2 separate regions of the Homo sapiens genome follow, and region 2 is linked to region 1. The links come from fine-mapping of genetic effects on gene expression. A gene starts in region 1. The other region holds a variant in brackets. All regions are shown on one strand. Distances are between the middles of the regions.

Region 1 (16,683 bases):
GCAGAGCCTACGAAGGTCTGAGCAGGGCAGGCCACACTTGTCCTTCCTGTCATCGTAAGCCTGCACGAGATGTCCTGGAAGGTCAAAGATGCAACATCTCCACATGCACACTTTGTACTTGTGTGAGCCAGGTCTTTACTCTTTAACAAAATGAAGAATGGTGAATTAATTTACTTGTGCATTGTACTATTCTTCTAAGTTGCTTCATGATCTATCTTGGCTGATTTCTATCTTCACACAAACACCCCATCCTTCACAACCTTTCTTCTCCCCGGCAAAGATTCTTTCCTTGAATGAACTCTACTCAGGAACCCTGAATTACTTTTCAACTAGGTCTGATTTTGGGATTTCCATTTCCTCTACATTGTCCAATTCTAGCAAAAATCCTGCTAAGCTGATTTAACCAGAACCCCCTACCTTTAATATCTGATCACCCTTGATATCTGATTGGGTTCCCCATCCTCCACCACTCTCCAAGTGATGTCTGATCCTGCTAGCCTGCCTTCAGCAAGCACCCTATTAGGTGGAAATTAGCCAGAATCTGCCCTTATCCCTGATGTTTCCTCCTAGTATTTTTCCGTCACTTACCCCCACCTCGTTCCTTGGCTACACAGTCGCACTTGCCCATGCTGTAATCAGAGTCGAGGCCAGGCTCTTTCCCTCCCTCACTGCAAAACCTCATAGTGGTGCCTATGCCCTTCACAGTAGTTTCCCCACTTGGAAAAGTCTTCTTTCTGGTTTTTAAATTTTAAATTTATTTTTTTCCACTAGCACTTCCAGTACCATTCCTTCTGGTTTTTAACAGTCATTGAATATTGACCCATTATTCATATTTATATTCAATAACTGTCATTGAATACATATTTTAACACTTTTCTCTTATTCACGATGTTACCTCCCCACCTCCTCTTTCTCTTTGAGTAGTTATCTTCTCCAGCTCTCTAACCATACCTGTCTCTTTGTACCAAGTCCGTCCTTGTAGGTGCGTATATATGTATACATATATGTGTGTGTATATGTGCGTATATATGTATACATATATGTGTGTGTATATGTACATATATATGTACATATTTTGTATGTATATATATAAAAAGAGGGGATATATATAAATAATTTTTATTTATATATAATTTTATTTTATATATTTTTATTTTATATAATTTTATATAAAATTTTATTTAATATTTTATATAATTTTTATATAAAAATTTATATAATAATTTATATATAATTTTATTTATATATATTTACATATATAAATAAAAAGAATATAAAAAGAGAGAATATATATATAAAAAGGGAGAATATATTTTTATATATATAAAAAGAGAGTATATATATATATATATATATATATATATATATATATACACACACATATATAAAGAGAGAAGAAGAAGTAAGAAAAAAAAGTTAGAGAAAAATATAGAATAGTTGCTTGGTAATGTAGGTGTTGAAGGTTTTCCTAAGCAAGGCACAAAACCCAGAAACCATAATGAGAATTGGTGGCATATTTGATGACTTAAAAATGAAAACCTTCTGCATGACCAAAGACATAAGCAGATTTAAAGACTCGTGTGGCAGAAATTTCTTTGACTTGTCTATTCCATATTGCACATTTCTTCCTTAAAAAAGGAAGCACTGTATTCCTTGGGGTGATTGTGTGCTAAAGTGGCTAATTGTGCCCTTCCAATCAAACAAGGAGAGGACCCTTACTCACACGTCCATTTTTTATGCTTTTTTGTTTTAATTTTTTAAATTTTTATTTTTTTAATTTTAAAAAATGTTATTTATTTATATATTTTTAAAATTAATATTTTTTTTAAGACAGAGTCTCACTCTGTCACCCAAGCTGGAGTGCAATGGCGTGATCTCGGCCCACTGCAACCTCCGCCTCCTGGGTTCAAGTGATTTTCCTGCCTCAGCCTCCCCAGTAGCTGGACTATAAGCGTGCGACACCATGCCCAGCTAATTTTTGTATTTTTAGTACAGATGGGATTTCACTATGTTGGCCAGGCTGGTCTCAAACTCTTGACCTCAGGTGATCCGCCTGCCTTGGCTTCCCAAAGTGCTGGGATGCCAGGTGTGAGCCACTACGCTCAGCCACATGTCCATTTTTTATGGATAAGGAAGCCGAACTCAGAGATATTGAGTGGTACACCCAAGACCACCTTGCTGATAGCTGATGGAGCTGACTCAGGTATCTGTTGTCAGTACCTTTATTTAAACACACAGTGTTTACCATGTGCCAGGCACTGTTCCAGGTACTGCACAAATATCACCTCGTTTCATCCTCATAACAAGCTTATGAGATAGGTACTGTATTAGCTCCATTTTACAACAATTAAACTGAGTCATAAGAGAGCTTAGTAACTTATCCAGCTGGTAAGAGGTAGCCAGGTTCAAGCCCAGGCATGTCTGGCCCCCTGCTCTATTCTACGGTCACCACTTACATTGCTGCTGTGTTTCCTCGTATTTCCTGAGGAAGGAGCCACGCTTACCAAGGGCTCTAAGTCCCATCCAACTTCCTGGTTTTCAGTCTGTGTCTCTGGGTACTTCTTCCTTGGTCCCTGGGCAGCATGGTGAATGAGATTCAGAAACCTGGCTGGGAGACGAGGTATGAGTTATGAAGGAGTCAGGCTTTGGGACCAGAGGTTGGTCCTGTGCCCTTTCCTGCGTCCACATTGTTCCTTTCAGGCAGAGCATCTGTGCCTTGGAGGTTTGCCTCAGCCTCAAGACCAGGGTGTCTGGTCTCTCCACTCATCTTTCAACAAATATGTGGTGAGCTCAAACTCTGTGCCAGACATGCTTCCGGGCGCTGGGCATAGAGTGCTGAGTGACAGCATGGTCCCTGCTCTCCTAGAGCTCATACTCTAGATGAGGCAGAGGACACAGTATTCAGGTTTACAAAATGACGTGATGGTGGCAGACAGGGATACACACTGTGAAGAAAGGAATAGGTGAAGGGTCATGTGCAGGCAAGGGCAGCTGCTGTAGATGGGGTGGCGAGAGAAGGCCTCTCTGGTTGCCAAGCAGGAGCCAGCCCTGGGAAGAGGCAGAGGAAGAGCACACCACAGGCAGCAAGAGCAAAGGTCCTGAGGCATGAGCGAGTTTGGCCAGTGTAGCACAACAGAGAGTGAGGAGCAAGGTTGTAAGAAGTGAGGTCAAATCTTTGTGTATTGAAATAAGTATGGCTGCCGACAACAGATGGATTTGCAGCTCCATAGTTCTGCCCTATCGAGTCTCCACCGGAGAGACGCAGGCGGACAATGGAATGAACCTGGGCTTTGGAGTCAGTGCTACTACCGGCTTGTTGGGTGGCATCACTTCTCTGGGCCACTTTACTCATCTGTGAAATGGGAGGAAAATGTCTATCTCAGCAAGATGGCTGGGAATGAAATGAAGGAAGGTGATTCAAGGGACTGACACTGGGCTGGCACATCCTTCATATAAGAGAGCGAGCAGCTAACTCCTGCCTGGCTTTCAGGACCCTCATTTCCTGTTCTATTCCTTATTGCTACAGGTTCCCAGCTTGCATCCTTTACCCTAGTCAGGAGAGTGCACTACAGATAACACCTTATTGCCTGTGATGATGCCCTCTCTATTAGTCTACTGACTTATCTGCCTCCTTCGTAATGCTCTGAGAGCCTCTGCTCCCCCACTTCCCATCCCAGCCGCGGTCATCTGTCCTTCACCAAATTTTGCTCATGGAAGGTAGAGGGGAAGAAGGAAAGCTTTCCAAGAGGGATCAGGTTTTCCACCAAATATCTCTCCTCTCTCACTCCCAAATAGGGCCCTTTCTCCACCTGTATGTTGTGGCCATGCCAAACTACTTGTAGTCATGTTTCTCATTTCTGTAACTTTCTATAGAACTCGGAATGTCCTTCCACAATCTTCTCCACCTCACCCTGTGGTCGCCTCCTCCAAGAGGTCTTCCCAGAACTCCACTGCCTGATGGGGGCACCTGTTTCCTATGCTGTTCTCACATCAGTCATGGTCCCTCTTTACTTGTCTACTTATTTCCAAGTCTACTTCTCTTCTTCTTCATTATGCTATGAGATCCCTCCACCCAGCCCCACCATAGAGATTACCTAATAATGAAAATAATCATGGGACTAATATTTCCTGAGGACCATGTACCAGCTACTGTTCTATGCACTGGTATTGCTTTGTTTAATCCTCACATCAATCCTGAGAAATAGGCTAAAAGAGGTAAAAAACCTGCCCAATGTTACAGTTAATGAGTAGCAGAACCAGGATTTGAACTGAGTTAGTACAGCTTCAGAACTTGTGCTTATAACATCTACATGTTTGATGAATGAACGAAGGCAATGTTAAGTCAATAGGAACGTTAGTTGGCTTGACAGTTATAATTGAGTATGTCCATCTTTTAAAAATTTTATTTAAAAAAATTTTTATTTTTTTTATTCTATCTACCACAGACTGTCTGAGTATCCGTCTTTTTTGAGCTTGGTTAGTATGAGTCCCATTTCCAGGATCAAAGCAGAGGACTCTGATGCTTGCTCCAAGATATCACGACCCTGAGAGGTCTCTCCAGCCAGCCTGCCTCTCTGGGCTCTATCTCAATGGCATTTCAAAGCCCAGGACTTACCATCTGCAGGTTCCTCCAGGTTATCATGCCAAGACATGGGCTTCCTGGTGACTGTATGAACTAGAAAAAAAGAAAACAGCTTCACAAGTTCAGATTAAAACATGAGTTCCCTGCCCTCTCTAAGGTCCACCTTAAACAGGGCACCCATTTGGCACTCACTGAGTATCTGGTACATGCCAGGTATTATCCTGGGTGCTAGGATAATGCACGATTGGATAAGGCCCTCAAGAACCTCACAATCTAGAGTGGCACTGCCCAGAATGGTGGTCATCAGCCACATGTGGCTCCTTGAATTTGAATAACTAAAATTAATTACAATGAACACTTCAGTTCCTTAGCCACGTTAGTCACACTTCAAGTGCTCAATAGCTGCAGGCGGTTAATGGCTACAGTTTTGACTACAGCCAAGACAGAGAACATTTTCATCACTGATGAATTCTCTTGGACAGTGCTGGCCTATGGGGAAGGCCAAAGAGGTTTGCCAGGCAGTGATCTATGCCCAGGAGGGCACATGGTAACAGAGGAGCAGCACCCACATTCATCCACTCAGCTCATAATTACTGTGCACTGAAGAACAGGCTGTAAACAAGACAGAGCTGGCTCTTGTGTCCCCTGAGCTTTTACTCTATTTGTGGTGACAGGCAATAAACATACATATATCACCCGGCAAATGTAAGTGTGATAGAGAACAGTAAAGCAGGTTACGTGGATGGAGAGTTGGCGTTGGGGCTGGGGTGTGGGTGATGTATCTCTAGGGAGATACATATGAGCAGAGTTTTGAATGAAGTGAGGGAATGTGCTGTGTGTGTGGGAAGCATATGAGCGTGAGCCTGGGGAGTTTGAGAAACGTCAAGAGAGCCAGAGTGGCTCCAGTGGAGTGAGCTGGATGGAGAGTAGTGGGAAATGAGCAGACACCAGTAGAAACCAGTGGTCTCCAAGCTGCTTGTCTCAAACTCCTATCAGTAAAAGAACTTTAGAGCATGCGCCCTTAAAATATGTATAATTATATAGTTTTTATGGACTATTATCAGTATATTAGCAAATAAAATTTCTATCTTTATAAATAAAAGTAATCAATACAAGTTGTAATATTTTCTCACTTTATTCCAATGGCTCACATGCTCAAGGGACATGAGCTGGGAGGCAGCATTTTCCCTAGAGAGCATGAAGGTTGCCTGAAGAGATTATTTCCATTATTTGGAATGGACCGAGTTTGAACGGCTTTGGACACTAATTTGCTTTCCTGAAACTAGTGGTTGGGGACTCCAGAAGAAAACCAAGTTAGTTAGAAGGAAAGTGAAGACAGTACATTTTCTCTATAGAGCCAGGCAACAAAGTGGACTTTACATATTAGGCACAGAGTTGGGAGAGGCATTCAGGAAGAAGCAACAATGTTTATGCAGGTAAAGTGGGAAATGACATGATGCATTTAGGAAATCCATGTATTTAGAAATGGCAGGGGGGAAAGGAGTGTGTGTGGGATTCGTCAGCAATGGCTGGTGCAGAGTAGGCACCAAAGTATTTCTTAAAGGAGCAGGGTAAAGTGGGGGAGAGGAGTATGGCATGAAGCTGGCAGGAACCAGAGCCAGATCCAATGCGCCTTATGTCGTGATTGATTTAAACTTTACCTCAGAGGCTATGAGAAGGATTTTAGGTGGGATTGATGTGATCTAATTGTCCTCCTAGCATAGTGCTAAGCTAGCAAAGGTGTAGGGGTTTGGTCGGAGGGGCCAGCTTGGAGGGAAAGAGAATAAGGAGTTGGGAGCCCATCAGACCAATCCAGGCGGCAAGGACTAGGGCCCTGCAGAGGCTTCAGGAGTGAGGATGCAGGCAGAGGCTGTTTGAGGTGCTACTTAGAGCATGAAAGTACCTGAGCAGAGGCAGAGAGGAATCCATATGCATGATGGTGTCTTTCACTGAAGCAGGAACAAGTGGGTCAGGGGAGAGGAATGTTAATAAACAGGACTTGTGCCTTTTTTTAAGTGTGTGGAGGGAGAGAGACCTTGAGGAGGACTCCGAGGCTTCTAATGATCATGAGATCATTAGATGATGAGAGTGAATGATTCTGATCATGAGAGTGAATCATCCGGGGCCTTTTGCAGAGACAGGGTATTCTGGAGCAGCAGAGAGTGGGGAAGGTGGGAATGAGCCTGGCTTTCCTCCTGCTGGGTCTGAGGTGCCTGTGGGTTGTCCAGGGAGGGGAGCTGTGAGGTGGTTGGGCGTGTGGATCTGAAGCTCCATTTCAGGCCCAGTGGCATTCAGGGGAAGCTGGTGTGACAGGACAGAACAAACTGCCCAAGGAGAGTGCTCAGTGACAAGAGTGGAGGGTAGGGATGTTTTATCAGGGGGCACCCCAGAACTTTCCGAAGGGCAATATCAGAAGCCTGAAGAAAAACCTTTCACTTGTTAAAAACAACCCAAAATACAAACAAAAACAAAACACAAACAGCCTGCAAAATATAATTATTTCAAAAGTAAAATAATAAAAAGCCCTACAACTTTTTTTTTTCTACAACGAAAAGATTTAATCGTGTTGCGCATGAACTTTAATACAGCGAATACATCTGATATGATGTGGCCTCTCCAAAGTCATGGTTCCTGAAATCTAGGAAAGGGGGCGGGTGCTGGGGAAAGAGTTTTTGCTGGGACCGCGTTCCCACCCCGCAACCCGGAGGGCTCCTCCTTCCCCGGCGCCCTCCCGCTCTCGCCCTTCCCCCACCCCGCCGTGCCTCTCACTCTTGCGGAGGGGATTCACGTGATACTGCGTGTAGAGTTTCTGGGTTCGTAGCTCCTTGAGGTACAGTTCCCGCAAGATCTGGTTCTGATGGACCTCATCTGGAATCACCTTCTCTTTTGGGTGTCCCGCCATGGCCTTGGGCTGCCACGCGCCCTCTTGCCTGGGCCTTCCACAGTCTCCAGGCAACGCGTCCCCGCTGTCTCCAGGCAACGGCGTCCCGTGGTCTCCAGGCAACAGCGCTCGGGTAGTGCTGCCCGGTCGGGGCGGGTCTCACTCTGCCAGCCCCTTACCCTGCCTGCATCGCCCCGCCCCGCGCCCGCCGGTCGGGATCTTATTTCGCGCCCCGCCCTATTCTGGCACTGTACTCACTTGCCCCAGCTCCTCAGGCCCGGCTGGTTACTAGAAGGTCCCCTGGATACCGCCAGGAAAGGGCTTCCCGGCAAGGGGCAGACCCAGGAGGTAAGGGACAGATGATTGGACCTCACCTTGGCCAATCATTTCCTAAAAAAGCTTTTGGAAGGAGTCAGAAACCTCTCCCACCTTAAAGCAGATGCCCAGAATCAAAACCTCACAAAAAAACCGGAGGTTTCCTCTCTGAGAAAACGTTCTGGCCAGTGTGACCAAGATTACCAATGTGATAATATTGACAGAATAAACCTTTCCTAATTAAGGAACTTGTTGACTTTATAGTTTATTTTTAATGTTTGTGTTTAAAATGCACGTAATATAATTTTACCATCTTAGCCATTTTTAAGTATTACAGTACAGTAGTATTAAGTATATTCAAACTATGTGAAACCAATCTCCAGAACTTTTTCACACCCATTAAACAACAAGTTTCCCTTTTCCCTTCTCTCCAGCCCCTGGCATTTCACTTTTTGTTTCTATGAATTTGAGTCTGCTAGATACCTTAAATAATGTAGTTTATTTTAAAAGAATCGCCGAGCACGGTGGCTCACGCCTGTAATCCCAGCACTTTGGGAGGCTGAGGCAGGTGGATCACCTGAGGTCAGGAGTTCGAGACCAGCTTGACCAACATGGTGAAACCCCATCTCTACCAAAAATACAAAATTAGCCAGGCGTGATGGCATATGCCTGTAATCCCAGCTACTCGGGAGGCTGAGGCAGGAGAATCGCTTGAACCCGGGAGGCGGAGGTTGCAGTGAGCCAAGATTGCGCCACTGCACTCCAGCCTGGGGGACAGAGCGAGACTCCTTCTAAAAAATAAAAAATAAATAAAAAGTAGGTCTAGCATAAAGAAAGAAGCCACCCCTATTTTTAGTAAGCACCTAAATACTGTCTGAAGACTGTGCTCTTCCCCACTCAGTACTTCATTCATTCATCCATCCATTCATTCGCTCAGGACACAATGTGAATTGCAGAATGGGTTTAGTCTGGGACACAGTGTTGAACAAAATTTTTAATTGGATTGTTTATCAATTTGTTGGAGTTCTTAATATATTATTTTGAGGGCTGTACATGCTGCAAATGTATTTTCCCTCTGTGTGGCTTGCCATTTTAGTCTCTTAATGGTGTCTTCTGGACACCAAAAGTTAAACGTAGTCAAATATATTAGTCTTTTCCTTTATGATTATTGCTTCTTAATTTTCATTTAAGACATCTTTTTCTAATTTGATGACCTGAGGTTACTTTTATGTTACTTTTTAGAGCAGTGCTGTTCAATAAAAGTATGAGCTGAGCCACTCATGTAGTTTAAAACATTCTAGTATCTGCATTAAGAGAGCAAGAATTAGATAAAACTAATTTTAATAATGTGATATTTAACTCAGTATATCCAATTTGTCAATGATTCAACGTTTGAATATAAAAATTATTGAGATATTTTACATTGTTTTGTCCTACTAATGTTTAAAATCCAGTGCAGATTTTACACTTCATAACACATCTCAAGAGCTCCATGGCCATCTGTGGGCAGAACTATTAATATTTAAGAGGATTTGTTGTTTTACCCTTTCTCAGTGAGATCTGTATTCCACCTGAAATTGGTTTTCGAGTGCAGTGTGAGGTAGGAATCCAGCTTAATTTTTTCTTTCCAAAGGAGTATCCAGTTGACCCACCAGCAAATTATTGAAGAGATAGTCCTTCCTCACTGGTCTGCTATGCTACTGTGTCCATAAAAAAAGTGTCCCCATTTGTGCAAGTCCATTTCTGGACTCTATTCTGTGCCATTGGTCTATTTGTCTAAGCTTGCAACAGCACTACACTATCTTAATTACCATAATTTATGTAACACATTCTAATATCTGGTAGGGAAGAATGTCTTCTCAAGACAGTCTTGCCGCTTCTTGGCCCTTTGTATGTCCATATAAATTATAATGAGCTTGTCAAGTTCCCTAAAAATATCTTTTGGGATTTTTATTGAGATTATATTGAATCTAGACCTCAGTTTGAGGAGAGCACTTCTTAATGTCATGTGTTCATGTGATGCTATCATCTGGTCAGGATCTGGACACATTCTTGCCTTCTAGACTGCTACCTTTCCCATTCTGAAGTAGAAGTGCTGCCTGAGCAAGAGGCTCACCCTCAGAGCTTTGATGAGAGCACAATGGAGGGACCCTCCCCTTTTTGCAGGAGACATTTCTCAAGGGCAGAACGTCCTTGGGATGGTCCTGGAATCCTAGGATGAAGAAAATGGAGTCTGGGAGGAACCAGACCAAAGGAAACAAACCTAAGTCCCCATCTATCTACAGCAGGGACCTTGTGCCCTATGTGTGATTCTCAGGGGTTGCACTCACTTGAATGCAGGGCAGATCGACAAGACTTACCCTCCAGAGAACACATTAGATGTGTTCCACTCTTCACTCTCCTCTTCATTCTCTGTCAATGGCCCTGCAGTTTGCTCTGTGGCTACAGACCAAGTTCCGTGGAGAAGCCAGTCTCAAACGTAGAGAACCTCATGCAGGCTGGCTGACCAGGCATGAGAGGAAAGGAGCAAACTGTCAAAAAAAAGGAAATCTCTGGCATCTGAAGAGGATTGCCCAGACGGGAATGGAGACAAAATAGAAATAGTATCAAGGTAACCAGGATCTGGTCATGGAAAAGGGGTCCTGTCACTTACCAAGGCTGAAGGTGGGTTTGCTGTTGTCTTGCATTCCGTGTGTCCACCAGGCCAAGCTGCTGGGAATCCACAGTCCTGGCAATTCTGAACTGCCCCAGAACTGTCCCAGCATGAGGGAAACCATCTCTCCAGGATGAGAGCTGTGAATTGTCATGGTTGGTTGGGGGTGGCTCGATTGGGAGTGGGAGCTAGAGTACAGGGGATTAGAAACAAGGGCTAGGAGGAGGAGCGGGGGAAAGGCAGGGGTGTAATGGAAATTGGGACCCTGATGAACGTGGTGGCAGCAGATGCACGGTTTAAAACCCACAGAGGAAGAGCTGGGCAGATCCTTACAGTAGGGTAGTGGGCGGGGCTGACATTATTCGGAGAGGGGTAACAGATAGGGCAGAACCCCAAAAAAGTGGGATGGCACAGAAGACTAGGGTGCAGGCTTGAAAACTGAGGAAAAACAGCAGAAAGGAGGGCTGGATGATGAGAGCATTAAGGAACAGAAAAGGTGAAGTCATGGGTTGAGAAAGAGAAATTTGAGGTAGCTTGCTTGTCATTCTTTCAAATGGGAGCTCTAGTTACTTGTCCAAAGGAGTCCAAATGAGTCATTGGGATGTGGCCAGACCAACTCCAGGATTTATCTCACACACAGCCCTCACATCATCCCCTAACTGAATGCCCATTATGAAATGTACATACACATCCCTTTTGGTCTAGTGAGCAGGTCCCACCAATCAGGGAAATGGCACCAGTTTCTAGGTTTAAGAGTTGTCATGGGAAATGGCAAAGAGAAGAAATGGGGCTGTAGTATTAATCCTTGTTTTTGGGATACTATGTAATTTTGCCCTCAGTAGGCAAAGATCGACCAAAGGGCTAGGATAGATTTAGAGGGCTGGAGCCTAGGTGAGCGGTGCTGAAGCAGGAATTGGGAAAATGGGAAGAAATTAGTGCCTCAGTCTCCTTCCCTGACAACACTGTTCAAAGCCCTTTTCACTGCATTTACATCACTGGATAGATATGTGTGATTAAAGATGTCACGTCCATTTTACCATGAGGACGGTGAAGACCAGAGAATGAAGTCCCTTAGGTGGGCAGGGGGTGACAAAGCAGATGGGACTAGAACTTGGGCCAAAAGAGGGCAGGTAGGAGGGAGCACAGAATGGCGCAAAGCGCAGACCAGCAGCTTTGCCTCCTCCTGCGTCTCTGAACAGGATCCTGTAGGGGGCGCTTCAGAGCAGAACTGAACTTTTTGGAGCGTACCATCTTGGTTCCTGTGTTCTCTTGGTTTGATGACTTACTCTTAACTGGAACCATAAACGTAGGGCTGAGACTGGCAGGATGACTGCCCACTCCTGGGTGCCTAACGACTAGATTTGGACTTCCTTGCTCACTACCAGAGATGCCTGTCTCCATGTCAGATAACTAAGGAGAGTGCACCCTCCCCCTTTCTTTAGTCTGATGAAGCAACCCCCTCTGCTGACCATTCCTGGTTTCTTTGATCACCATCCAAATCATAAGTCCCTTTGCTCACCTATTCTCTCTGGTATTTTTATCACCATAATATTCTGATTGTTCTTTCTTGACCCAACACCCTTTTCCTCCCTTACTTTCAGTTGTACTCTATGGAAGTTCAGCTGCATGATTAGTAAACTTCCCTATTTCCTTAGACTGCTTCTTTACGGACAGTTCCTTGCTTCTCCTGGCTTTAAATGTAATTTGGATTTCCCTTGAGGACATTGCTTCCTGTGTATTTCAGGTAGAGACTCTACTTATTCTCTGAAACTCTAAGTACTTCAGTGTGGGAATGTGGTGTATAGGTTCTCTTTGCTCCTTTTGATTCCTTTCAAACCATTATTCCTCTCTTCTTACTAAAAATCTCTTGCTCCTACATGTGTACTTGACGGTCGTGAGAGGAGAGAGAGGATTGAAAAACTACCTATGGTGTACTATACTTATTAGCTGGGTGGCAAATAATCAGTACACTAAACCCCTGTGACATGCAGTTTACCTATATAACAAACCTGCACATGCACTCCAGAGCCTAAAAGTTAAAAAAAAATTACACACATTATGTGTATATGTACATATGTATTTGTAATATAGACTTTATTTATTAAATATATAATATTTTAGAGTCAGTTGTATTGATATTTGTATAAATGATGCAACTATATATGATGAATAAATATAATATGCATATTTACATATAAATAGACTTGAATTGCTGGTATAAGGTATGTTGTTAAACTTTGATAAATTCAGCACGAACACTGAAAACCAGCAATGGTGCCCCAGCCCATGACCACTTCCCCACTGCAGTGCCCAAGGGTTATAAAGCTCAGGACCCTTCCTCATGTCTCTGCTGAGCCAAGCAGTGACCCGCCCAATGCTGAGGATGCTGAGTGACCTGAGGGGCCTGTGGGGGAACACAGAGCAGCAGGTGCTAGGGAGATAGATGGGCAGTGGGTCTGAACTCCCAGTGGAGGGATGTTTAAAGAAAAAAAAAGAAAACCTCTTGCTCCTTAAAGCTTGTGCTATACATCACCATTTCCCTGCACTGTCCCCTAACATCTCCTGGACACTCTCTTTCTCTCTTTTCCTATTAACATGGTTACAATTGTCTCAAAGTCCTATTCTTGAGTTCATCACACTGAGTGACTTCAGTGTTCATTTAGATGGCCTGATTCAATTCTCTGGCCTCTCTGTGTGTGTGTGTGTGTGTGTGTGTGTGTGTGTGTGTGTGTGTGTGTGTTTTACTTATAACACATTCTGTATTTTGTAAAAGTTTGATTTTTGACACATAAGAATTGCACATATTTATGGGGTACAGTGTGATATTTTAATACTTGTGTACATTGTGTAATGATCAAATCAGTATATGTAACAAATACATCACTTCACTTATTTCTTCTTGGTGCAAATATCGAAAAGACTCTTTTAGGTGTCTTGAAATATACAATAGTCCCTCTAACGTGAAATAGAACACCACAACTTATTTCTCCTATCTGTAATTTTGTACTCTTTCACCAATCTCTCCCCATTTCTCCTCTAGCAACCACTATTCTGTTCTGTACTTTTATGAGATTGACTTTTTTTAGAGCCCACAAATGAGTGAGATCATGTGGTATTTGTCTTTCTGTTCCTGGCTTTTTCACTTAATGTGATGTCCTCTAAGTTCACTTAACGTAATGCCCTATAGGTTCATCTACATTGCTACAAATAACAAGGTGTCATGCTTTTTTTATGACTAAATTTTATTCTATTGTGCATATGTACTACCTTTTCTTTATTCATTCATGCATTGATGGACTTTTAGGATAATTTCATAGCTTGGCTATTGTGAATAAGGCTCCAGGAAACATGGGAGTGCAGATTTCCCTTTGACATATTGATTTTCTTTGGATCAGTACCCAGTAGTGGGATTTCTGAATCATATGATACTTCTACTTTTAATTCATTTGTGGAAACTCTATACTGTCTTCCATAATGGTTGTACTAGTTTACACTCCCACCAAAACAGTGCGTAAGGGTTCCGTTTTCTCCATATCCACACAAGCATTTGTCATTTTCGCCTTTTTGATAATACTCATTCTATTTGGGGTGAGGTGATATCACACTGTAGTTTTGATTCGCATTTCCGTGATGATTAGTGATGTTGAACATTTTTTTCATATACCTGTTGGCCATATATATGTGTTCTTTTGAGAAATGTCTATTTTGGTCTTTTGCCCACTTTTAAATTATTTGGTGTTTGTTTTGTTTTGTTGCTATTGAGTTGTTTGATTTCCTTGTATATTTTGGATATAACCCCTTGTCAGATGCATGGTTTGCAAATTTTCACCAAAATTCACCACTTGCCTTCTACTTCAGCCACTTACGGGCATATCTGGTCCTTCTCATTACTGAAGAATTGTCCCACTTCTGAAACCACATATTCAGATATACTGTTCTCTGACCATGACTTCCTGTCCTTACAGTGTAGTCACTCTATTCCTCCCAATTCACTTGGCCTCCAGCCCACCATCCTTTCTTTCTCTATATCTAGTAACTCTAATTCCCATGCTGTCTTTACTTCCCTCCTTACATAGTTCAGAGTCAACAGTGGCCCTGAATAGCTGGGTGCGCTATTCTGGTAGCAGCCTGGAATATCTAGGCGCGCTGATATTTATTGCATGCAAGACAAGGGGTAGGGTAAGGAGGGTGAGTAGCCCAGGTGATTGATAAGGTCAAGCAAGTCACGTGATTGACCTTATCAATTTTATAATTTCAATGACTTTTTGAAAACCAATATTATCAATTATCTTGTGGTATTATATTTTTTAATCTCACTTTCCTGGAAAGAAAAACTCAACCTGGCTGATCCCAGCCATTTGCCTTTCATATGGTGCTGAATGCTGTTGAAAAAAACCTAAGAGATTGATACTAAATACTCTATCCTAAACAATACCCACAATCCTCAATTCATAGAAGTTGTTGGAATAAAAACATTGAAAGCAATCTAAATAATTATAAATAAAAATAGGTAAATTATGATAGAGCCACACCATACAATGTAAAAAGAAAATCCACAAATATAAAAAGGGATCTTATCAGTAATATATAAAAGAACTCCTATAAATAAATAAAAAAATACACACTCCAGTAGAAAAATAGTAAGAGACTTGAAAAGGTACTTCATGAAAGAGGAGAGCAAAATGACCAATCATATATAAAAAGGTGCTCAACCTCATAGATGTTCAGGAAAATACACATTAAAACCACAATGAGTTAATACTACAGACCCATCAGAATGGCTAAAATTAAAAAGATGGTCTATACCAAATACTGGCAAGATTATGGAGCAACTGGAGCTCTTATACCCTGATGCTGGGTATGTAGATTGGTAGAACCACTTTGGAAAATGTTTGACATTATGTACTAAAGAAGAGTATGCATGTATTGTATAATCCAGTAACTTCCTGCCTATCTATATGTATTAAATAAATGGTTACACAAGTATAATTAAAGATATGAAAGAGGTTCATGGCAGCATTATTTGTAATAAACCCAAACTGGAAACAACCCAATATTCAATGACAGTGTAATGGATAAATAAATTATGGCATATTCATACACTGGAATATTATACAGCAATACAAATGTATGAACAATACAGCTACATACAATAATATGGGTAAATCTGGCATACATAGTGTTGAATGAATGCAGGCACAATAATGCATCCTGTGTAATTCCATTTATAAAGCGTTTAAAGCTAAGCAAAACTAATCTATGGTGTAGGGTCCAGCCCTACGGGGCTTTGAGGGTGTTCTCCCCGTGTGCGGAGACGAGAGATTGTAAGAAATAAAGACACAAGACAAAGAGATAAAGAGAAAACAGCTGGGCCCGGGGGACCACTACCACCAAGACGTGGAGACCGGTAGTGGCCCCAAATAGCTGGGTGTGCTGATATTTATTGCATACAAGACAAGGAGGCAGGGTAAGGCAGGTGAGTCGTCCAGGTGATTGATAAGGTCAAGCAAGTCACGTGATCATGGGACAGGGGGCCCTTTGCTCTTAGGTAGCCGAAGCAGAGAGGGAAGGCAGTATATGTCAGCATTTTCTTCTATGCATTTATAAGAAAGATCAAAGATTTTAAGACTTTCACTATTTCTTCTACCACTATCTACTAAGAACTTCAAAGAGGAACCAGGAGTGCGGGAGGAACATGAAAGTGGACAAGGAGCATGACTACTGAAGCACAGCACCACAGGCAGGGGTTTAGGCCTCCGGATGACTGCGGGCAGGCCTGGATAATATCCAGCCTCCCACAAGAAGGTGGTGGAGCAGAGTGTTCCCTGACTCCTCCAAGGAAAGGGAGACTCCCTTTCACGGTCTGCTAAGTAACGGGTGCCTTCCCAGGCACTGGCATTACTGCTTGACCAAGGAACCCTCAAGTGGCCCTTATGCAGGTGTGACAGAGGGCTCACCTCTTGCTTTCTAGGTCACTTCTCACAATGTCCCGTTGGCACCTGACCCTATACCCGCTGGTTATTCCTTGGTTATATTAGTAATACAACAAAGAGTAATATTAAAAGCTAATGAGTAATAATATTTATACTAATGATTGATAATGTCTATGGTTATCTCTATATCTAATTTGTATTATAACTATTCTTATTCTAACTATTTTCCTTATTATACTGCAACAGTTTGTGCCTTCAGTCTCTTGCCTCAGCACCTGGGTAATCCTTCGCCCACACTATGGCATGTTAAGTCAGGGTA
Region 2 (16,683 bases), 23 kb after region 1:
TGGCAGGGCTACACTCTGTCGGCTGCTTCTGCAAAGACCTACAGCTCAGGCTGCAACAGGGCCGAACCATGTTAGCCTTTGAGTTAATCTCTGAAGCCTCACCAGTCAACACTGGCACTGCCCTCTCATGTCTAGGGAATATAAATGTTGTCACAGATTTCCACTGTGTTGCTCAAGCCATATAAAGGCACTCCCTAAACTTCAATTAGACTTTTCTTTCCACAGAAGCCTGTTGTCATCCTAATTGACCAACTAGACTTTAATAATTCGACTGTAACAAAATTGGAACTCATTCACTATGTGGTTAATGTACTTCACCTGTCAAGTGTATTCCCAGTGAAATTTGTTCTAATTATTCTCCCCATCTTTAAGCGTTGTGAACAAAGGAAATTTTTGTATGGCAATAAACTATGTGCTTCATACTTTGATCATCCTTTTATTTTAACCACACAAAATAGTGTGCTGGAATTTCTGGGCTTTTTTAAGCTTCAGCAGAGGAAAGCTTCAGAGTCCTGTTACTAGAAGCAGTGAGAATGGATGTTGGCTAGCAAAATCAGTTGCCAAACATAGTCTATAACATCAGTTTTAGAAATCACCCCTTAGGAATTAGTACAAAAATGGAAAATCCTACATCTGCGAAGAAGTTCATTTCAGTATTGATTACAAAATAAAGTTTTGTGAAACCATGCATCATATTATGCATCCATTTAAGATACATGTAATCAGCATGGAGTAATTTGGAGCAATGCATGTGATGTGAAATGAAGTGGAGAAAAGCAGTACTTGATAAAACAGTGGAAGAAAATACACTGAAAAGAAAAAGCCATTGGTTTTAGGGAAGTGGAATCGTGGTTGATCCCCTTTTCATATTCCTATCTTCCAGTCTTTCAGGAATATGATCACAACAGGATGTTGACTGGGACTTTTCCTGTTTTCTCAAAAGACTTTGAGATCTTTACATCTTTACTTTTTAAAAGAGCCTCAACACGTTGCTAGACACAAACCAATCTTGTGACCATCACTCCATTATCACATACCTATAGACTACAAGAAAAGACTTGAAATGTGAAAGGGAGGTTCTTTAAACAGGAAAATGTAGTCTTTATTGTAGGGGGAGAGTAATGTGGCTTTTTCCCTCCTGGGCTGTCCTCTAGGTCTCCTCCCCACCTTTGCCCCATGATGACGTTGGACAGTTCACTGGGAGGGCTTGGGACGTTTTGATGTGTCCCTTGGAATTTTGGGGATAAATGAGTCTGATGTCTCCCGCACACCTGGAGAATTCTTAAGGCAAAGGCTGACTGGAGAGGCCCGTGAAAGAAGAAAGAGGAGAAAGGGCAACAGCGGACAGCCAGCAGTGGAACTTCCCAATTTGGTGTTGCAAGGATGTGTGTGTTTAATACGGGATCTGGCAGTGTGTGCCCTGCTTGGAAACTTAACTTGGCTCCTTGGTCCCTACCCTTGTGGAGGTTATACTCTGAGTGGGAGGCAGATAGTAATCAAAGAGTCCTATAAATAAACATAAACCTACTTGTCGGAAGTACTAAAGTAGAAAGGTGCATGGTGCTACACGAGCGTATAGTAGGTATGCTTCGCCTCGTTAGAGAGGTCTGGGAGGGTTTCCTTGTGGAAGTGTTGTATGAGATCCTAAAATAAGAGTTAACCAGAGGAAATTCGTGGGGGAGGATGAGAGCATTCCTGGGGGGAGGCAACAACATATGCCAAGTTCCTGTGCTAGAAGGAGCATGCCTGTGCAAGGAACAGAAAGAAGGTCCAGTCGGGCAGAAAGCAAGGGAGAGCAGGTGCAGAAGTGCAAGGCCAACCATGGGCCTTGTGGGCCATGTTGGAATTTAGTCCTTTATATTAACAGCTCTGGAAAGAGATTAAAGCATTTGAACCTGGGAATGATGTTCTAAGACTTGTGATTTGAATGGATCATTCTAGCGGAAGTGTGGTTAAGAGATTATCAGAAGAGAATGCATGCAGGTGTAGATCTTTTTACTAATTTTGCTTGGAATATAGTGGGGCATTTCGATCTTCAGAGTATTTCTCTGGAAATTCAGAAAGTGTTTTCCTATATATTATACCCCTGGATCCACTTACTCTGACCCTCTGATCCATTTACTGTTTTCTTTAGACATTCTTTAATACTTACAGGTTGGATCTATGTAACTCATCCTCCATTCTGTAATTATCAGAATTTTCCTTCTTTTCTCTTGCATTCTGAGAAGATTTTAATGTTTATGCAAGGTCCATTTTTCTGTTTATTCTCTCCAGTTTAGGTTATATTTTGACCATTGTGTCAAATTTTATTTTATTGTATTTCTTCATTTAATTTCTTATCTCAGTCTATTACCTTCTTATTCTTGCACCTGATTGAAATAAGAGAAAAACTTATTTAAAAATACTTTTGTTGTCTGCCTTTCAAATAAGGGCTTTTTCTTAGAATCTTCAGGATGTTTTTCTGTTCTCATGAACTACAGACGTATATTATGGTTGTGGCCATGGGAGTGGTGAAATGGTGCAGCTGAATGATGGTGTTTGCAATGATAATGGGGGTGATTATAATACTGATGGTGATAATAATGGTTAAATGATGAGTTGGTGATAATACTGAGAATGATAGTGTAATAGGAAAAGGATGATAGTTCTGGGATGACGGTGAATCAAAGCGATGATGAGAATACTGATGGGTGATGAGGTTGTAATGATACATGATGAAAATAACAGAGTGATAGTGGTGGGGAAAGTGAAGGTGTCTTGGGTATGTGCTTCGTAGCTAGTGTACACACTTGGGATAGAATTAGGTAAAAGTTAAAACAAGTTTTTTTTGATGCCTCTGAGGGACACTGAGTCACTTACACTTTTTCTGCTTTGCAGCTGGTGTTGGCCCAGCTGCCTATTAAGCTGAAGTTCTTAATGATGTTCCTTCCATTTCCTGAAGCACTGAACTTAACAAGCCTCCCAGGAATTCTCACTTCTGAGCAACTCAACTGTGGCTTAATTGGGCCACAGCCAGGAGGGAAGACTTCCGAGGCAGAGGGACCCAGGAGTGGCCCCCAGTAACTGGGGAATAAACTTGGAGCCTCATAGCAGGAGGAGGAAAGAGAGAGAGTGGAGACTGTCAAGATATTACAGAGCGTAGCTCTCTGTATAATTGGCAGTTCTTATATCCTCCTGGGAAGTGTCAGCCTAATGCAGAGCTTGTGCGAGATTCTCAGCAGCTCAAAGCCGGGGGCCTGTGATTATGACTGCGAAGTGTCATACACAATTCTAAGGCAGGTCCCTGAATTCAGGTGATTATGTGTCTGCCTGAGAAGTTTTTAATCCACCTTCAGCTATCCTTGACATGCAAACCAGTCACTGAAGATCAGTGCTATTAGGAGCCTTCAAAGTTGGCTTTGCTGGTTCTTAAGTGACAGTGCAAGGGCTAGTACATCCTGGCTGCATCAGAAACCTCTCAAGTTTTAATTGCTATTATTTGTGATTTCTTTTATTTTTTTTCTAATTACACGAGTAGCCATTAATATGCTCATTATAAACGTTCAAATACAAATAAGTAAAGGTTCTCTTCGATCCTCTCTTCAGCACCAGTCCTCATACCAGAGGTTAAGTCTGCTTCCACACTTTAAAAAAATATGCTTTAACATTACGTGTGTGAATATAAAGAAATATGATTTTTTCTAAGGTAGAGGATATAATGTCTTTTTTCTAAGGTAGAGGATATAATGACATCATAACATAACAATAATACAAATTTTTATTGCTAGGCCAAACATATATATATGTGTGTATATATATGTGTGTGTATATATATGTGTGTGTGTGTGTGTGTGTGTGTGTGTATATATATATGCACTAACTTTTAATGGATGCTTCCAAAAGGGCACTATTCAATTTAAAGTCCCATCAAGAATGGTCATTAGAGGCCAGGCACGGTGGTTCACACCTGTAATCCCAGCACTTTGGGAGGCTGAGACAGGAGTATCACGAGGTCAGGAGATTGAGACCAGCCTGGCTAAAACGGTGCAACTCCATCTCTACCAAAAATACAAAAACTTAGCCGGGCGTGGTGGCGGGTGCCTGTAGTCCCAGCTACTCAGGAGGCTGAGGCAGAAGAATGGCGTGAACCTGGGAGGCGGAGCTTGCAGTGAGCCGAGATTGTGCCACTGCACTCCAGCCTGGGCGACAGAGGGAGACTCCGTCTCAACAAAAAAAAAAAAAGAAAAAAAAAAGAATGGTCATTACAGAAATGCAAATCAAAACCACAATGAGATACCATCTCCTGCCAGTTAGAATGGCAATCATTAAATAGTCAGGAAACAACAGATGCTGGAGAGGATGTGGAGAAATAGGAAAGCCTTTACACTGTTGGTGGGACTGTAAATTAGTTCAACCATTGTGGAAGACAGTGTGGCAATTCCTCAAGGATCTAGAACTAGAAATACCATTTGACCCAGCAATCCCATTACTGGGTATACACCCAAAGGATTATAAATCATGCTTGTAATCCTAACATTTTGGGAGGTCAAGGCAGGTGGATTGCTTAAGCTCAGGAGTTTGAGACCAGCCTTGGCAACATGGCAAAACCCTGTGTCTACAAATGTACAAAAATTAGCCAGTCCTGGTGGCACGCACCTGTAGTCCCAACTAATTGGGGGGCTGAGGCAGGAGGATTGCTTGAACCCGGGTGGTTGAGGCTGCAGTGACCCGAGATTGCACCACTGCACTCTAGCCTGGGCAACAAAGTAAGACCTCCATCTCAAAAAAAAAAAGAAAAAGAAAGAAAGAAAGAAAGAAAAGGTAATTAGTAAATTGGAATTAAAAACTGAAGAAATTACTTCAAGACAAAGAGATGAACAACATGAAAAAGAACTTAAAAGCCACATCCACATAAGATAGAAGAGAACATGTTGTATAAATTTGATGTAGCAGGAAAGAGTAGATAGGAGAAAGACAATACTTGAAGAAATTCCCCCAAATTGATGAAAGACAAAACAACAGATTAAAGAAGTCTGACAAATTCTCAAGCTGGATAAGTAAAAAGAAATTCACATCTGGATACAACATGGTCAACTGCTGGATGAAATCAACCCAATAGTCCCATAGACACTTTTTTTGTTGTCTTTTTGTTTTTGGATAAACATAGAAATGGACCCTTCTGGTCAATTTCTTTTTTCTTTTTTTTTTTGAGGCGGAGTCTCACTGTATCGCCCAGGCTAGAGTGCAGTAGCATGATCTCAGCTCACTGAAAGCTCCACCTCCTGGGTTCACACCATTCTCCTGCCTCAGCCTCCCGAGTAGCTGGGACTACAGGCACCCACCGCCACGCCCAGCTAATTTTTTTTTTGTATTTTTAGTAGAGATGGGGTTTCACCGTGTGAGCCAGGATGGTCTCGATCTCCTGACCTCGTGATCCAACCACCTCAGCTGCCCAAAGTGCTGGGATTACAGGCGTGAGCCACCAAGCCTGGCCCTTAAAGCTTGAAACTTGCATTTGTTTTATCTGAGTTCCTTCTTAGCAACACCCTCAGGCCACTCAAAAAAAGTATCAAAGAGCTGAAACTCACCAGGTCACAGCATCCAGACAATGAAATGCCAGACACCTCATTCATCACTATTGCTTCCTTACCCCTCCCTAGTTCCTTGGGAGGGGTACATTTTCTGTTTTCTTATACATTGTTATATTTCTTCCCTGCCATATAAACCTCTAATTCCAGTCATCAGGGGAGACAGATTTGAGACTGATCTCCCATCTCCTTGGCTACAGCACCCAATTAAAGCCTAAAGCCTTCTTCCTTGGCAATAATCCTGGTCTCAGTGATGGGCTTTCTCTGGGGCAAGCAGCAGGACCCACACCAAGCCCCTGGTGTTGTGGTAACACTGAATACAAAAGACAAACAGAAGGTCTTAAAAGCAGCCAGAAAAGAGAGATTACCTATGCAAGGCTGCCAGTTAAATTGATAGCTGGCTACTCCATAGCAGCAATACAGGTCAGAATACAATGGAATAATACCTGCAAAGTGCTGAGAGAAAACAATAGTCAGCCTAGAGTTCAAGATCCAGCAAAATGATCTTTCACTAATAAGGGTGAAACAAAGACATTTACAGGCAACAAAAATGACAAATAAATATCAAGTATGTAAAGTAATAATAATAATTATTGTTTGAGACAGTCCCCCTCTGTCACCCAGTTTGGAGTGCAATGGCACAATCATGGCTCACTGCAGCCTCAGCCTCCTGGGCACAAGTGATCCTCCCACCTCAGCCTCCTGAGTAGCTGGGACTATAGGCACATACCACCATGCCCAGCTAATTTTTAAATTTTTTTGTAGAGATGGGGTCTCCCTATGTTGCCCAGGCTGGTCTGGAACTCCTGGGCTCAAGCAATCCTCCTGTCTCAGCCTACCAAAGTGTTGGGATTACAGGTGTGAGCCACTGCACCCAGCCAACAATAATAGTTATGACCAAATTTTGTGTTAAAATTTTTAAAATAGCACTAAAATTCTGGACAAGAATAACCTGTAAGTCCAGAGGAAGGTGACTGGAGATGAACTATACCATGTCCCAGGAAAATAAATAACAAAGTATGGTCACAGATAAGGCTTGGTAAAATCACAAGAAAAATACTATGAATAGCTTTATGCTAATAAATTTGAAAATAGATAACTTTTAAACTGATGAAAAGGACACTTTTATATAAAAATATAATTTAGATGAAATGGACAATCTTATGTAAGGATATAATTTACCAAAAACAGTCTTAAAACCTACATTGATCTATAACCTTTAAATAGATAGAATTAATAGTTTGTAATAATCTGCCCCCCTCCCCACTAAAAAAAGGACCTTGGAAATTTTAAAGGCAAGTTCCGTCAAATATTCAAGTGGCATATGATTCTAATTTTACACAAGTTGTTCCAAATAATCCAAAAAGGGGGACACTGGGCGGGAAATGCTCTCAAATTCATTTACGGTAATCAATCTAATTTGATACCAAAGCCAGTAAAAAGCTGAAGAAAGAAAATACATAGACCAGTTTCATTTACGAAGAGAGATGTAAAGAGCCTCGATACATTAGCAAACCATATCTCATATGTACAAAAAAAAAAATCTTTTAGCAAATAAGGATTAAAAGAAGCTTTCTTGGCCAGGTGCAGTGGCTCACATCTGTAATCCCAGTGCTTTAGGAAGCCCAGGCAGCTGAGGAGGGAAGATCACTTGAGCCCAGGAGTTCTAGGCTGCAGTGAGCTATGACTGTGCCACTGCATTCCAGCCTGGGCAACAGAGCAAGACCCATCTCAAAAAAAAAAAAAAAAAGAAAAAAGAAAAAACCAACAACAACAGCAACAAAAAACCAGCAGCAACTTTCTTAAACCTAAAAAGTATATCTTCTAAAAATCTATAGCAAACATCAACCTTCATGGTAAAATACTACATATAATTTAAGTCAGAAACAAGACAAAGATGCCCATAATTACCACTTCTCTTCACATTGCACTAGATGTCCTGACTAGTGCAGTAAGACAAGAAAAACAAACATAGAGTTTAAGAATTGATGAGTAAACAAAGTTGCTAGCATTCATAAATAATTGGGTTGTGTATATAGAAACACCAGAGAAAATACAAAGTACAATGTAAGTTTACATAAGAGTTTATCAATTTTATGAAAGAACAGAAAGATATTAGTGTTTTAAAGATATTAGTGTTTATTTTTAAATTATAGTGATTAAAATTGTGTGGTTTTTGACCACTGAAACAGAATAAAGAGACCAGAAACAGACCTTCATACATGGGACAGTAATATGACAAAAGTAAGCCCTACAAATCAAAGTAGAAAAAATGGTCTATTCAATATTTGATCTTAGGACAATTGGTTACCCATATTTAAAAAAACAGAGCCTTATATATCACACCATATATACAGATCCATTTCAGGTAGATAATCAGTTTGATGTGAAAGCAAAACTTTAAACTTTTAAAAGAAATTATAATAATGATCTGTTTATGAGCTTGGGGTAGGGAAGGATACAGAACATATAAAATGTAAATTATGTAGGATAATACATTTGACTACAAATAAAATGTGTCTATGTATCTAAAGGTACAACAAACAAATTGAAAAGTTACGGTGTAGTCTGGGGGAAAATATGTGTAGCACAAATATCAGCTGAAATAGCATTTCACTTAATCTTCATGGCAACTCTGTGAGATGGGTGTTTTATGTCCACCTTATAAATGTAGAAATTGAAGCTAAGTGAAGATAATACATTTGCTCATAATTGTGATAAACAAAGATTCAACCTAGATCTGTCTCCTTCTGAAGCTTATGCTTCTAATCCCTCTACCACAGCTCCTTGCATAAACACGAAGCACCATTGAATGGGTGCAGAGATGAGGGGCAGAGGAACGGAGACTCTAGCACAGGAGAGAAGCCAAGAAGGCATCCCCAATATGAGAGAAAAGTGAGACTTCAGGATGATAACAAAGTAACCAAACCAGGTTGAAGCAACTCAGAAGGCTCCAGAAAAGAGATCTTCAACAAGATGAAGTTTTAAGAAAATCTTGTGTATCTGAATTTGGGAGAAAACTTAGACAATAGTGGGGAAAGTATGAAGATGAATTAGTAATAAATAAATATAAAACTAAAGAAGAAAGGTAAATGGAAATTAAACACTATCTATACAGTGTGTGTGTCCTTCAGTAGGTGAGTGAATAAATAAATTGTGGAATATTTAGGGGATGAAATTCTATGCAACAGTTAACAATGAACCCACTACAACGATCCATGTATCAGCATAGATAAGTCATTAACAAGAATGTTGAGTGAAAAAAACAAATCAGAAAAAGTAAAACATACATTATTTTATATTTAAAATATGAGAACAAAATAATACTATATATAATATTATTTTTTAATAAATCCATATTTGATAAAAGACTATAAACATCAACAGAAGAATATACACTAATTTCAGAATAGTGTCTACTTCTGGGGAAGAATGGATTGATACAATTATAGCAAAAAGTTAAAAGGTGTTAAACCTGGATGATGGATACAAGGATGATTGTTATATTTTTGTTATATTCATTTGCATATTTTTCTGTATTTAGAAAGTATTCCAGAAATCTTTAAAATCAAACACGCACACACACACACACACACACCCACGAGGAAGAACTGCTTAAAGTGAATCAACTCTTTTCCAAACTGCTTTCAGCCTCCAGGCTTTGGAAATTTAATACCAAAGCCTGGTCCATGTTTTGATCAAAATTCTTGGGGCAACTGAGTACAGAGGCCCATCTAGGTTCTAGGAAATGTTAAGCAAAACAATGGGCCTTGCCCCAGGAAACACATCAATAAGGAAGACTCTGAAAGTTTCTATAAATTGAGCTGATAAATTGATCAACAAAAATATTGACATGAACACTGTGTATTCAAACTGGCATGCTAGTACAAATAAGGCAACAGCAAAGAGGGAGGAGACTCATATTTATTTCGCACAATAGAGTCCACTGTTGAAACATAAGCCTGCTTTTCTCAGTACACCCACCAGGCCAGTAAAATACTCAAGCAATGCTAAGTGATAAAGTTAAGCCTTTTATCAGACCTAATTAGGTCAGTCCCCTCTGATCTTCCAGAGCAAAAGTTGATCAAAAATCTACAGAAATATTAATGGCAAGTAACATTTATTAAATGTACTACAGTATCCCCTCATCTGTGGTTTCACTTTTTATAGTTTTAATTACCCATGATCAACTGCAGTCTGAAAATAGGTAAGTACAGCACAATAAGATATTTTGAGACAGAAAGGGGCTACATTCACATAATTTTTATTATGGTATATATATGTGTGTGTGTGTGTGTGTGTGTGTGTGTGTGTGTATATTTTTTGAGACTGTCTCTCTCTGTCTCCTAGGCTGGAGTTCAGTGGCATGATCTCAGCTCACTGCAACCTCCACCTCCCGGGTTCCAGCAATTCTCCTGCCTCAGCGTCCTTAGTAGCTGGGATTACAGGTGCGCACCACCACACCCAGCTAATTTTTGTATTTTTAGTAGAGACAGGGTTTCACCATGTTGGACAGGCTGGTCTCAAACTCCTGACCTCAAGTGATCTGCCCGCCTCGGCCTCCCAAAGTGTTGGGATTACAGGCATAAGCCACTGCGCCCAGCCTATTACAGTCTATTCTTATAATTGTTCTATTTTATTGCTAGCTATTGTTAATCTCTTACTGTGCCTAATTTATAAATTAAACTTTATCATAGGTACCTATCTATAGGAAAAAACATAGTATATATAGGGTATGGTACTATCTGTGGTTTCAGGCATCCACTGGGGACCTTGGAATGTATCCAGTGTGGATAAGGAAAAAAACGACAGTATTTTTCAGTTGTGTTTCTAAGTTCTTCAGATGTAAATGCAGAATCCTCCCAATGCTATTTTGCCCCTCATCTTACTGATGAAGGAACTGAGGCCCAGAGAGGTTAAGGCCACATTGAAATAACATGGTGGAGTTACAATTCAAAACCAGGTATTCATGCAAAAATCCAATTCAAATTGGATCATAGAACTAAATGTGAACGTTTTTAAAAAGACAAGACTTGGAAGTCTAAAGAGTTATGTTATGGTGATGTCAGCAAGATGGCAGAAGCTCCAGGTCCCTGTTCTCCCATGGAAACATCAAGTAAATGACAACGTATTTACTGAAAATCAGAGGCCGGGTGCGCCGACTCACGCCTGTAATCCCAGCACTCTGGGAGGCCAAGGCAGGCAGCTCACTCAAGGTCAGGAGCTCAAGACCAGCCTGGCCAACATGGCA[C/A]AACCCTGTGTCTACTAAAAATACAAAAATTAGCTGGGTGTGGTGGCACATGCCTGTAGTCCCAGCTACTCGGGAGGCTCAGGCACGAGAATTGCTTGAACCCAGGAGGCGGAGGTTGCAGTGAGCTGAGATTGTACCACCGCACTCCAGCCTGGGTGACAACAGCAAGACCCTGTCTAAAAAAAAAAAATCTCGGCTCTTACAGTTGTAGGAGCTGTAGAAACCAGTCAAGGATCTGCAGCAACCAATCAATTAAACACCCAATCAAGACAAAGCAACACTTAACACAGTAGGAAATTGTGTTGCTTTTTTTTTTTTTTTTTTTTTTTTTTTGAGCCCTTGCCTACCTTCTCCTCAGTGCAACACAGTCAGGAGGAAGTCACACAATTCCCCTTTCAGAGGGAAAAGACTGGGACTTGTTTGCACTGTTCTGTCTTGTCTGGAGGCTGCCTGAGGAACTGATTTTTATCTCATCTGACTCAGCTTAGATGGGAACGGTGGCATAGTTGGATAGCAGGTTGGACCCCACTGAAAGCAGTGGCAGGTGCCATGGCACATGAAAACTGCCGGAGAACTGTAGACCCAAGGGCACTTGGAGCGGGAGATTACAGGCAGAGAATTACAATGGAACATCTAAGACCCTGAGAAGAAGCAGGGGTGAAAGTCTTAGGAAAATCAAGACGTTTAAAAGCCGCTGTGCATATCTTTGAAAAGCCCACAACTAACGTCATACTCAATGGTGAAAGACTGAAAGCTTTCCCTCTAAATTAGAAGCAAGAATGTCTCTTTTTATCACTCTATTCAACATAGTACTAGAAGTCTTAGCCAGAGAAATTAGGCAAGGAAAAGAAATAAAAGGCATCCAAGTTGGAAAGGAAGAAGTAAAATTATCTCTGTTCACAGACAACTTGGTCTTATAGGTAGAAAACCCTAAAAATCCCAACAAAAACAGTGTTGAAACTAATAAACCAATTTAGCAAAGTTACAAGATATAAAATCAACATGCAAATATCAGTTGTCTTTCTATGCACTAACAACAAACAATCCAAGAAGGAAATTAAGAACAAAATTTTATTTACAATAGCATCAAAGGGATAAAATACTTAGGAATAACCTTAGAGGCAAAAGACTTGTTCACTGCAAACTACAAATTTTGGTGAAAGAAATTAAGGAAGACACCCTTAAGTAGAATATCCTTTCCAATCCATGTTCATAGATTGGAAGATATAATATTGTTAAGAAGTCAATATTACCAAAAGGGATCTACAGATTTGACATAATGTCTATCAAAATCTCAATGATTTCTTTTTAGAAATTAAAAAATTACCTGGGCAATGATTCTATGAAAAAAAATCCACGTCAAACTAAGATAAAATCTCAAGGGACAAAACAATCGAAAAACAAAGTCGGGGAGGAGCCAAGATGGCCGAATCTACAGCTCCCAGCGTGAGCGACGCAGAAGACGGGTGATTTCTGCATTTCCATCTGAGGTACCGGGTTCATCTCACTAGGGAGTGCCAGACAGTGGGCGCAGGTCAGTGGGTGCGCGCACCGTGCACGAGCCGAAGCAGGGCAAGGCACTGCCTCACTTGGGAAGCGCAAGGGGTCAGGGAGTTCCCTTTCCGAGTCAAAGAAAGGGGTGACGGACGCACCTGGAAAATCGGGTCACTCCCACCCGAATACTGCGCTTTTCCGACTGGCTTAAACGGCGCACCACGAGATGATATCCCGCACCTGGCTCGGAGGGTCCTACGCCCACGGAGTCTCGCTGATTGCTAGCACAGCAGTCTGAGATCAAACTGCAAGGCGGCAGGGAGGCTGGGGGAGGGGCGCCCGCCATTGCCCAGGCTTGCTTAGGTAAACAAAGCAGCCGGGAAGCTCCAACTGGGTGGAACCCACCACAGCTCAAGGAGGCCTGCCTGCCTCTGTAGGCTCCACCTCTGGGGGCAGGGCACAGACAAACAAAAAGACAGCAGTAACCTCTGCAGACTTAAATGTCCCTGTCTGACAGCTTTGAAGAGAGTAGTGGTTCTTCCAGCACGCAGCTGGAGATCTGGGAACGGGCAGACTGCCTCCTCAAGTGGGTCCCTGACCCCTGACCCCTGAGCAGCCTAACTGGGAGGCACCCCCCAGCAGGGGCACACTGACACCTCACACAGCAGGGTATTCCAACAGACTTGCAGCTGAGGGTCCTGTCTGTTAGATGGAAAACTAACAAACAGAAAGGACATCCACACCAAAAACCCATCTGTACATCACCATCATCAAAGACCAAAAGTTGATAAAACCACAAAGATGGGGAAAAAACAGAACAGAAAAACTGGAAACTCTAAAACGCAGAGCGCCTCTCCTCCTCCAAAGGAACGCAGTTCCTCACCAGCAAGGGAACAAAGCTCGATGGAGAATGACTTTGAGAGCTGAGAGAAGAAGGCTTCAGATGATCAAATTACTCTGAGCTACGGGAGGACATTCAAACCAAAGGCAAAGAAGTTGAAAACATTGAAAAAAATTTAGAAGAATGTATACCTAGAATAACCAATACAGAGAAGTGCTTAAAGGAGCTGATGGAGCTGAAAACCAAGGCTCGAGAACTATGTGAAGAATGCAGAAGCCTCAGGAGCTGATGTGATCAACTGGAAGAAAGGATATCAGCAATGGAAGATGAAATGAATGAAATGAAGTGAGAAGGGAAGTTTAGAGAAAAAAGAAAAAGAAATGAGCAAAGCCTCCAAGAAATATGGGACTATGTGAAAAGACCAAATCTACATCTGATTGGTGTACCTGAAAGTGATGGGGAGAATGGAACCAAGTTGGAAAACACTCTGCAGGATATTATCCAGGAGAACTTCCCCAATCTAGCAAGGCACGCCAACGTTCAGATTCAGGAAATACAGAGAATGCCACAAACATACTCCTCGAGAAGAGCAACTCCAAGACACATAATTGTCAGATTCACCAAAGTTGAAATGAAGGAAAAAATGTTAAGGGCAGCCAGAGAGAAAGGTCGGGTTACCCTCAAAGGGAAGTCCATCAGACTAACAGCGGATCTCTCGGCAGAAACCCTACAAGCCAGAAGAGAGTGGAGGCCAATGTTCAACATTCTTAAAGAAAAGAATTTTCAACCCAGAATTTCATATCCAGCCAAACTAAGCTTCATAAGCGAAGGAGAAATAAAATACTTTACAGACAAGCAAATGCTGAGAGATTTTGTCACCACCAGGCCTGCCCTAAAAGAGCTCCTGAAGGAAGCGCTAAACATGGAAAGGAACAACCGGTACCAGCCGCTGCAAAATCATGCCAAAATGTAAAGACCATCGAGACTAGGAATAAACTGCATCAACTAACGAGCAAAATCACCAGCTAACATCATAATGACAGGATCAAATTCACACATAACAATATTAACTTTAAATGTAAATGGACTAAATGTTCCAGTTAAAAGACACAGACTGGCAAATTGGATAAAGAGTCAAGACCCATCGGTGTGCTATATTCAGGAAACCCATCTCACGTGCAGAGACACACATAGGCTCAAAATAAAAGGATGGAGGAAGACCTACCAAGCAAATGGAAAACAAAAAAGGCAGGGGTTGCAATCCTAGTCTCTGATAAAACAGACTTTAAACCAACAAAGATCAAAAGAGACAAAGAAGGCCATTACATAATGGTAAAGGGATCAATTCAACAAGAAGAGCTAACTATCCTAAATATATATGCACCCGATACAGGAGCACCCAGATTCATAAAGCAAGTCCTGAGTGACATACAAAGAGACTTAGACTCCCACACATTAATAATGGGAGACTTTAACACCCCACTGTCAACATTAGACAGATCAACGAGACAGAAAGTCAACAAGGATACCCAGGAATTGAACTCAGCTCTGCACCAAGTGAACCTAATAGACATCTACAGAACTCTCCACCCCAAATCAACAGAATATACATTCTTCTCAGCACCACACCACACCTATTCCAAAATTGACCACGTACTTGGAAGTAAAGCTCTCCTCAGCAAACGTAAAAGAACAGAGATTATAACAAACTATCTCTCAGACCACAGTGCAATCAAACTAGAACTCAGGATTAAGAATCTCACTCAAAACCGCTCAACTACATGGAAACTGAACAACCTGCTCCTGAATGACTACTGGGTACATAACGAAATGAAGGCAGAAATAAAGATGTTCTTTGAAACCAACGAGAACAAAGACACAACATACCAGAATCTCTGGGACGCATTCAAAGCAGTGTGTAGAGGGAAATTTATAGCACTAAATGCCCACAAGAGAAAGCAGGAAAGATCCAAAATTGACACCCTAACATCACAATTAAAAGAACTAGAAAAGCAAGAGCAAACACATTCAAAAGCTAGCAGAAGGCAAGAATTAACTAAAATCAGAGCAGAACTGAAGGAAATAGAGACACAAAAAACCCTTCAAAAAATTAATGAATCCAGGAGCTGGTTTTTTGAAAGGATCAACAAAATTGATAGACCGCTAGCAAGACTAATAAAGAAAAAAAGAGAGAAGAATCAAATAGACACAATAAAAAATGATAAAGGGGATATCACCACCGATCCCACAGAAATACAAACTACCATCAGAGAATACTACAAACACCTCTACACAAATAAACTAGAAAATCTAGAAGAAATGGATAAATTCCTCAACACATACACTCTCCCAAGACTAAACCAGGAAGAAGTTGAATCTCTGAATAGACCAATAACAGGATCTGAAATTGTGGCAATAATCAATAGCTTACCAACCAAAAAGAGTCCAGGACCAGATGGATTCACAGCCGAATTCTACCAGAGGTAAAAGGAGGAGCTGGTACCATTCCTTCTGAAACTATTCCAATCAATAGAAAAAGAGGGAATCCTCCCTAACTCATTTTATGAGGCCAGCATCATTCTGATACCAAAGCTGGGCAGAGACACAACCAAAAAAGAGAATTTTAGACCAATATCCTTGATGAACATTGATGCAAAAATCCTCAATAAAATACTGGCAAAACGAATCCAGCAGCACATCAAAAAGCTTATCCACCATGATCAAGTGGGCTTCATCCCTGGGATGCAAGGCTGGTTCAATATACGCAAATCAATAAGTGTAATCCAGCATATAAACAGAGCCAAAGACAAAAACCACATGATTATCTCAATAGATGCAGAAAAAGCCTTTGACAAAATTCAACAACCCTTCATGCTAAAAACGCTCAATAAATTAGGTATTGATGGGACATATTTCAAAATAATAAGAGCTATCTATGACAAACCCACAGCCAATATCATACTGAATGGGCAAAAACTGGAAGCATTCCCTTTGAAAACTGGCACAAGACAGGGATGCCCTCTCTCACCACTCCTATTCAACATAGTGTTGGAAGTTCTGGCCAGGGCAATTAGGCAGGAGAAGGAAATAAAGGGTATTCAATTAGGAAAAGAGGAAGTCAAATTGTCCCTGTTTGCAGATGACATGATTGTATATCTAGAAAACCCCACTGTCTCAGCCCAAAATCTCCTTAAGCTGATAAGCAACTTCAGCAAAGTCTCAGGATACAAAATCAATATACAAAAATCACAAGCATTCTTATACAACAACAACAGACAAACAGAGAGCCAAATCATGAGTGAAATCCCATTCACAATTGCTTCAAAGAGAATAAAATACCTAGGAATCCAACTTACAAGGGATGTGAAGGACCTCTTCAAGGAGAACTACAAACCACTGCTCAAGGAAATAAAAGAGGATACAAACAAATGGAAGAACATTCCATGCTCATGGGTAGGAAGAATCAATATTGTGAAAATGGCCATACTGCCCAAGGTAATTTACAGATTCAATGCCATCCCCATCAAGCT

What was found.
Region 2: its variant is fine-mapped to the expression of CFAP144 in unexposed skin (GTEx, PIP above 0.99).

The regions. Positions count from the first base shown.
Region 1 is chr1:43,138,753-43,155,435 of GRCh38, reverse strand. CFAP144 (cilia and flagella associated protein 144) reads right to left here and starts at 7,532. Exons shown (of 4, transcript NM_001101376.3): 1 at 7,352-7,532; 2 at 4,616-4,675; 3 at 2,505-2,608. The coding sequence starts at 7,484. RefSeq lists an enhancer at 1,543-2,506.
Region 2 is chr1:43,116,060-43,132,742 of GRCh38, reverse strand. No RefSeq gene overlaps it. Among named protein-coding and RNA genes, the nearest start is that of CFAP144, 24 kb to the left of the region's middle. RefSeq lists enhancers at 10,820-11,341, 11,890-12,530, 12,531-13,172. The variant C/A (reference allele first, on the strand shown) is at 10,819.